Linked DNA regions of Homo sapiens. The protein of the gene in region 1 interacts with the protein of each later gene in a pairwise test. Each region holds a gene or a part of one and is shown on either strand. Other genes may lie near its edges. The genes, in order: FXN and RASSF1.

Region 1 (3,814 bases):
TGTAATCCTAGCACTTTGGGAAGCTGACGCAGGCAGATGGCTTGAGCTCAGGAGTTCCAGACCAGCCTGGGCAACATGGTGAAACCCCGTCTCTACCAAAAATACAAAAATTAGCCGGGTGTGGTGATGCATGCCTGTGGTCCCAGCTACTCAGGAGGCTGAGGTGGAAGGATTGCCTGAGTCTGTGGGGCAGAGGTTGCAGTGAGCTGAGATCACACCACTGCACTCCAGCCTGGGTGACACAGTGAGACCCCATCTCAAAAAAAAAAAAAAGAAAGAAAACGGCCCAGGAAGGCTGGAGGGCCGCCGTGTCCATTGAGAGAGTGCTCCAGGCACTCCAAAAAGAAAATGACCACAATGGGAAGAAACCAGCTGACCATGAGACCAAGTTCCAACCTTTTACAAGTGGCCTGTGGCTCCTGGCGCCCCGCCCACAGCTGACAGGGGCTCAGAAGTGCTAGGGGGACCATGGGCCACCAGGGCCACCAGGAGGGAGGCAGGTAACGATGCGAGGGCTTGGATGCAGAACACCAGCTGGTTTGATTCTGTTTTCCCTGTACCTGGGTCCTGAATGCCCAGAGGCTCAGGGAAACACCAGCCAGTGCTGCTGCCTTTAAAGCACTTTTGACTGATCTCTTGTTAATTTAGCAACTGTTATTGGTTGATGCTGCAGTTGCTCTTATTGAAGTTTGATTGATAGCATTAGGATGGTAAGGCACTATTTTTCAAATAAAGGTTGTTTAATATAAAAAAAATTTTGTTTTTTTTTCTCTCAGCCTTTCACATTGGTTCAAAATATCTTTCATCTGGCTGCATTTCTGATTTTTGTTTTGTTTTTTTTTTCTTAATTTTATTTATTTTTAATTAAAAATAATTTTTTTTGTCAACATGGGGTCTCACTTTGTTGCCTAGGTTGGTCTGAAACTCGTGGCTTCAAGCAATCCTCCCACATCAGCCTCCCAAAGTGCTGGGGTTATGGGTGTGAGCCACTGCAGCAGCCTGTTTTTTTTGTTTGTTTGTTTTTTTTAATTTGACAAGTTTTCAGGTCCTGTGAAATCAGCAGTCTTACCTCCCACCTTGCGCACCCTGAGGAGGTTGCAGAATAAAGGAGAATTCTAGGGACACGTGGGCATCAGTGCCTGTGCTCAGAGCACCTCAGGCAGTGTGGAGGGGTCTAGAGGTTACTCAGGCTCTGCCTGGCAACCCGATAGCAGTATCAGAGTATAGGGCCAAGGGGACGGTCCTTGGGCTTGGTGTGGTTTATTAGTCCTTTTCCTGTGACCCTGATGGTTTGGTTCACTCATTTTTATCTCCATACTGGGAACAGGTTCAAGCCCCAGCATTTGGTTGATAATGCAGGAATCCTTGATACTTTTATTGCCCAAGCTTCCCTTCCTGGTGACCTCATCCTAGCCTCAGTCTTTGGAAAAGCCCTCCTTGAGTGCTCAGGCAGACTCAGGTGCCCTTTCTTCTGGGCTCCCATGCACTCTGTTCTTACCTCCATCAGGGTGCCACATGCACTAGTGTTATCTGCTGCCGTGGCCAATCATCCATGAGGCCATGAGGAAGTGGAATGTACATCTGGTATAAGAAGACATGGCAGAAGCCAGCCTCCGATCTGTCCACACGAATACAGCATTCCCAAAGCAACGTGCATGTGCCATTATTCACTGGATGAGCTTGAGGTGGATGAACTAGCCCACCAGGCTCTCAATGTCATGAATTTAACACTGAATTAAGAAAAATATGTTTTAAAAATAATAGTTTAGGTGATTGCTGGGGTGCTAGGAGAGGAAGGAATGGGGAATAACTGTTTAATGGGTATAGTTGGCCTTGTGTATCTGTGGGTTCCACATCTGATTCAACCAACCGTGGATCAAAATATTTGAAAATAAAAAACAAAACAAAAATGATACAAATAAAAACCAATATAACAACTATTAACAGCATTTACATTGTACTAGGCATTATAAGTAATCTGGAGATGACTTAAAGCATACAGAAGGATGTGCCTAGGTTAGATGCATGTATCGTACCATTTCATATCAGGGACTTGAGTACCCACGGATTTTGGTATCTGCAGATCCTGGAACCCCTTCCCTATGGATACCAAGGAACAACAGCACTGGGTCTCCTTTTGGGGTGATGCAGATGTTTTGAAGCTAGGCAGAGGTAGTGGTTGCACAACATTGTAAATGTACTAAATGCCACCAAATTATTCATTTTTAAATGGTTAATGTGTTATGTGAATTTCACCTTAACAACTAATAATATTATAGGTAAGGCACAAGTTACATCTGTAGCACAAAAATGGCCCTAATTTTTAAAACACTGCTCCAGCATAGCAGGTATCACATGTGAGGTAGCAAAAGCTGGAGATCAAAGTGTGATACCTGGAGACTTATCAGTAAGGGTCAAATGTTTTTTCAGGTTTTGAGAATCATTCTTGGAATTGTTCCAGAAGATATATCGTATAACTCTTCTTAGATGCTAAGATAAGAAGGCAGATATACACTAGCTCATTTTGTGTTATTTTCTAGAGCTTTACTCCAGTCAATTTCTTGGGGGCAGCATTTGTGGAATCAGTGGTTCATCTGAAGGGCTGTGCTGTGGAATTACTATGCATTTGTTTTGTCTTCCAGTGGACCTAAGCGTTATGACTGGACTGGGAAAAACTGGGTGTACTCCCACGACGGCGTGTCCCTCCATGAGCTGCTGGCCGCAGAGCTCACTAAAGCCTTAAAAACCAAACTGGACTTGTCTTCCTTGGCCTATTCCGGAAAAGATGCTTGATGCCCAGCCCCGTTTTAAGGACATTAAAAGCTATCAGGCCAAGACCCCAGCTTCATTATGCAGCTGAGGTCTGTTTTTTGTTGTTGTTGTTGTTTATTTTTTTTATTCCTGCTTTTGAGGACAGTTGGGCTATGTGTCACAGCTCTGTAGAAAGAATGTGTTGCCTCCTACCTTGCCCCCAAGTTCTGATTTTTAATTTCTATGGAAGATTTTTTGGATTGTCGGATTTCCTCCCTCACATGATACCCCTTATCTTTTATAATGTCTTATGCCTATACCTGAATATAACAACCTTTAAAAAAGCAAAATAATAAGAAGGAAAAATTCCAGGAGGGAAAATGAATTGTCTTCACTCTTCATTCTTTGAAGGATTTACTGCAAGAAGTACATGAAGAGCAGCTGGTCAACCTGCTCACTGTTCTATCTCCAAATGAGACACATTAAAGGGTAGCCTACAAATGTTTTCAGGCTTCTTTCAAAGTGTAAGCACTTCTGAGCTCTTTAGCATTGAAGTGTCGAAAGCAACTCACACGGGAAGATCATTTCTTATTTGTGCTCTGTGACTGCCAAGGTGTGGCCTGCACTGGGTTGTCCAGGGAGACCTAGTGCTGTTTCTCCCACATATTCACATACGTGTCTGTGTGTATATATATTTTTTCAATTTAAAGGTTAGTATGGAATCAGCTGCTACAAGAATGCAAAAAATCTTCCAAAGACAAGAAAAGAGGAAAAAAAGCCGTTTTCATGAGCTGAGTGATGTAGCGTAACAAACAAAATCATGGAGCTGAGGAGGTGCCTTGTAAACATGAAGGGGCAGATAAAGGAAGGAGATACTCATGTTGATAAAGAGAGCCCTGGTCCTAGACATAGTTCAGCCACAAAGTAGTTGTCCCTTTGTGGACAAGTTTCCCAAATTCCCTGGACCTCTGCTTCCCCATCTGTTAAATGAGAGAATAGAGTATGGTTGATTCCCAGCATTCAGTGGTCCTGTCAAGCAACCTAACAGGCTAGTTCTAATTCC
Region 2 (3,814 bases), on another chromosome or scaffold:
GGGCCTGCGGAGCCTGGCGAGCAGCGGCCCTCTCCCTGGGGCTTCCCTTCAATCTCCGGGACATTTCCCCGACCTGGAGCTCCTCCGCCTCACCGCCAGGCCTCTCTGCAGATTGCAAGTTCACCTGCCACTACCGCTGCCGCGCGCTCGTCTGCCTGGACTGTTGCGGGCCCCGGGACCTGGGCTGGGAACCCGCGGTGGAGCGGGACACGAACGTGGTGAGCGCGGGGCCGAGGGCGTATGGGAAGGGCGAGGATGGGCAGGCCACAGTGCAGGCATTCTCGAGGGCTGCCTGGGTGCCGCGCGCAAGGAGCGTTCTAATTGCCGATTTCCCGGCGGCACAGAGAGGCTAATTCTGCGCGGGGGCTGGGAGGGGAGCCTGGATTGCCGGCTCCGCAAGTACTCCACCCGCTGCAAGCGGACCCGGGCCCAGGCTGACCCAGGCTCCGCGCACGCGCACTTCCCGCACCTTCCCGCCCTCGCCTCCGGCCAGAGGCCACTCTTGTGCGCTTGCCCGGACGCTGGCACCCGCCCCCGTTCCCTGTGGTAGGTGGGGTCTGTGAGTGGAGCTCCGGAGCGATGAGGTCATTCCTGGGGGCGAAGCGTGCGTGTCCCCGCCCCGGCGTTCCTGCCCCAATGAGACAAGAGCTAGATCCCGGCGATCTACGTTTCAGTCTTAACGGTTGCGGCGCGGCTCTGGCCCGGGCGCACGCGCACACTGACACGCGTACACGCACGCACGCGACCGGGGCGGTGGTTGGCGGCTACGGACGCGCAGGACTGGGGGACGGGCGGGTACGGCTATGGGCGAGGCGGAGGCGCCTTCTTTCGAAATGACCTGGAGCAGCACGACGAGCAGTGGCTACTGCAGCCAAGAGGACTCGGACTCGGAGCTCGAGCAGTACTTCACCGCGCGAACCTCGCTAGCTCGCAGGCCGCGCCGGGACCAGGTGGGAGCCAGGGGGTGCCGGCGGGCGGGAGGGGAAGCGGTCGCTGGAGCTCCGCCCTCCCCGGTCCGTTGCCGCGTCCTGGGTCGGTGGGCAGCCCCACCCTCCTGGCTACGTGGCTCCCCGCGGGTCCTGGCCGGGGACCTGCCCGCGGAACCGTGCGTAAGACCCCGATTCCACCGCCTAGATGCTGGGTGCCGGGGCCCCCTTGGTTTCTGTCACAGACAGGTTGAACACGGAAAAAGCAGCTGTATGGCTTGTGGTAGACCTGAGCCGGGCATTATCCAGCTATGACTAAAGCCGACCGAGCAGTTTGGACTAGCACCTCGATTTCCGCGTTCGAATGCTCCTGCTCCCTCCTTGGGGAGACTAGGGGAGGATGTGGAGAGGGAAGAGTCCTCGCCAGGAATTGAGAAGTATGTTTAGGAAAACTTGAGAGGCAGAGAGAGATCCTGCTCCTCCATCTGCACTCCTGTATGGAGCCAGCTGAGCCCTCACCTCTTCCCTGTTCTGGCCTGTCACCAGCTGCTGGAATGTGGAAGATTCTGTTCCCTTCCTCTAGGGTGGATCTGGAGAAAGATTTGGGAATAGATAGGAAAGAAGTCTTGTTTTGGACCATAAGCATTCAGGAGCACTTTACCCACAGGAAGGGGGAAAGCTAGATTATAAAATGCCTAAAGAGGTGGAAAAAGAGATCCAGGTTACTAACCCAGGACTGTAAGGTGTCTCGGAACCTCCTAGGTATCCCCATTATCGGAGAACTGTGTGCCAGATGCCATTGGTGTGACCACCAGGCTCAGAGAACCAGGCCTAGGCACCAGGAAAAAGAAACAGGGACTGTGAAGCTCAGTATGCCTGGCAGAAATGGGGCGGAAATCCTTATTTAAGTAAAGAAAGTGGAGTTGTGAGTGATGCTTCAGATAAAATTTTACAAAATTCCTTACAAAATGGGTGGTGCTCAGCACGCCAAAATCTTAGCCCAGAGCTTGGGTGCAAGGGTTGAGTTGAGTGTAGACCCCTGGGCTTGTCTTCATGTCAGTCAGTCCTGAGCCATTTTCCACTGTGGAAAGGTGGGAAAACCACAAGACACTAACCAATTGAAAAGGAGGGCTAGCCACGGAGGTGCACACCTGTAATCCCAGCTACTTGGGAGGGTGAGGCAGAAGGATCACTTGAACCTGGGAGGCAGAGGTTGCAGTGAGCCAAGATCGTGCCACTGCACTCCAGCCTGAGTGACAGAGTGAGACTCTGTCTCAAAAATAGAAAAGGAAGCCAAGTACGGTGGCTCACACCTCTAATGCCAATGCTTTGGGAGGCCAAGGCAGGTGGATCATTTGCAATCAGGAATTCGAGGTCAGCCTGGCCAACATGGTGAAACCCTATCTCTACTAAACATACAAAAATTAGCCGGGCATGGTGGTGTGTGACTGTAGTCCCAGCTACTTGGGAGACTGAATCACTTCAACCGGGAGGCAAAGGTTGCAGTGAGCCAAGATCGTGCCACTGCACTCCAACCTGGGTGACAGGGTGAGGCTCTGTCTCAAAAAAAAGAAAGAAGGCTGGGCTTGGTGACTCATGCCTGTAATCTCAGCATTTTGGGAGGCCAAGGCAGGCAGATCACTTGAGGCCAAGAGTTCGAGACCTGCCAGGCCAACATAGCAAAACCCCGTCTGTACTGAAAATACAAAAAAATTATCTGGCCATGGTGGTGTGTGCCTGTAATCCCAGCTACTGGGGAGGCTGAGGCAGGAGTATCACTTGAACCCAGAAGACAGAGGTTGCAGTGAGTCGAGACTGGGCCACTGCATTCCAGCCTGGATGAGAGAGCAAGACTCTGTCTCAAAAAAAAAAAAAAAAAAAAAGAAAGAATAGGAGGCTGAGAAGTCCCAAGTTATATGTTAAAAAAAAAGAAAAAAACATCAGTTTTAGGCCAGGTGCAGTGGCTCACACCTTTAATCCCAGCACTTTGGAAAGCCGAGGTGGGTGGATCATGAGGTCAGGAGTTCAAGACCAGCCTGGCCAAAATGGTGAAACCCCGTCTCGACTAAAAATACAAAAAATTAGCCAGTTGTGGTGGCAGGCACCTGTAATCCCAGCTACTTGGGAGGCTGAAGCAGAGAATTGCTTGAACCCAGGAGGCAGAGATTGCAATGAGCCAAGATCGCACCACTGCACTCCAGCCTGGAAAACAGAGCGAGACTCTGTCTCAAAAAAAAAACCATCAGTTTTTATGGACAGTGGTAGAGTGGAGGGTGGGTCCCTATGGTGCAGAAGGGAAATTCCATGGTCCTGCTGTGCATCCGACTGGGATGGCTGTTGAAATCCTCTTCCAGCAGGCAGCTTTGGAAACAGAAAAAGAAACTCTTCCTCCTTTAGAATCCTGGAAGGGCTGTGCAGTGCCTCTAATCCAAGTCTGTTTTCTGAGTGAAGATAGGGAGGTTCATCACCAGAAGGGAAGGGGCTGGAAATGAGGTCACTGCATCCCAGCCCAGGGCTCCTGGGTCATCCAGGAAGGGAAGAAGGAGCAAGCTTTCTCATTGTTAGGTAGGAGCTCAGAGCCATCACAAGAACAAGTTAGCACCATCCCTGTGCCCTCCCTGTTCTGCAAACAAAATGATCTTCCTTCTTGCCCTGGCACTAGAGTCTGTCTGGCATTTCTCCTGCCCCTAGTACTCCTCCCATCTGGGTACTTCTTCCCGTTGGTGTACTGAACAAACACATCCACTGCTTTATTCACAGCCTCCAGCCCTCATTTTCCAGGGCCCACACCATTTGTTTTTACTAACCCGACAAGGTTGCCCACTGTCCCCAGTAAGGTTTGTACTGGGGTTTTTACTCCAGTGCTCTTCTCCATCCAGGAGACCTTT

What was found.
Region 2: the proteins of FXN (region 1) and RASSF1 interact in binary tests that used the Homo sapiens proteins (3 or more experiments, as listed by UniProt).

What each region holds. Positions count from the first base shown.
Region 1 is NC_000009.12:69,069,970-69,073,783, forward strand, and holds part of FXN (frataxin, mitochondrial isoform 1 preproprotein), read left to right. Parts: intron 1-2,642; coding exon 2,643-2,793; 3' UTR 2,794-3,814.
Region 2 is NC_000003.12:50,334,309-50,338,122, reverse strand, and holds part of RASSF1 (ras association domain-containing protein 1), read left to right. Parts: exon of another isoform or gene 1-99; coding exon of another isoform or gene 100-111; coding exon 112-218; exon of another isoform or gene 219-612; intron 613-672; exon of another isoform or gene 673-803; coding exon of another isoform or gene 804-950; intron 951-991; exon of another isoform or gene 992-1,363; intron 1,364-3,814. UniProt on the Homo sapiens protein: Potential tumor suppressor. Required for death receptor-dependent apoptosis. Mediates activation of STK3/MST2 and STK4/MST1 during Fas-induced apoptosis by preventing their dephosphorylation.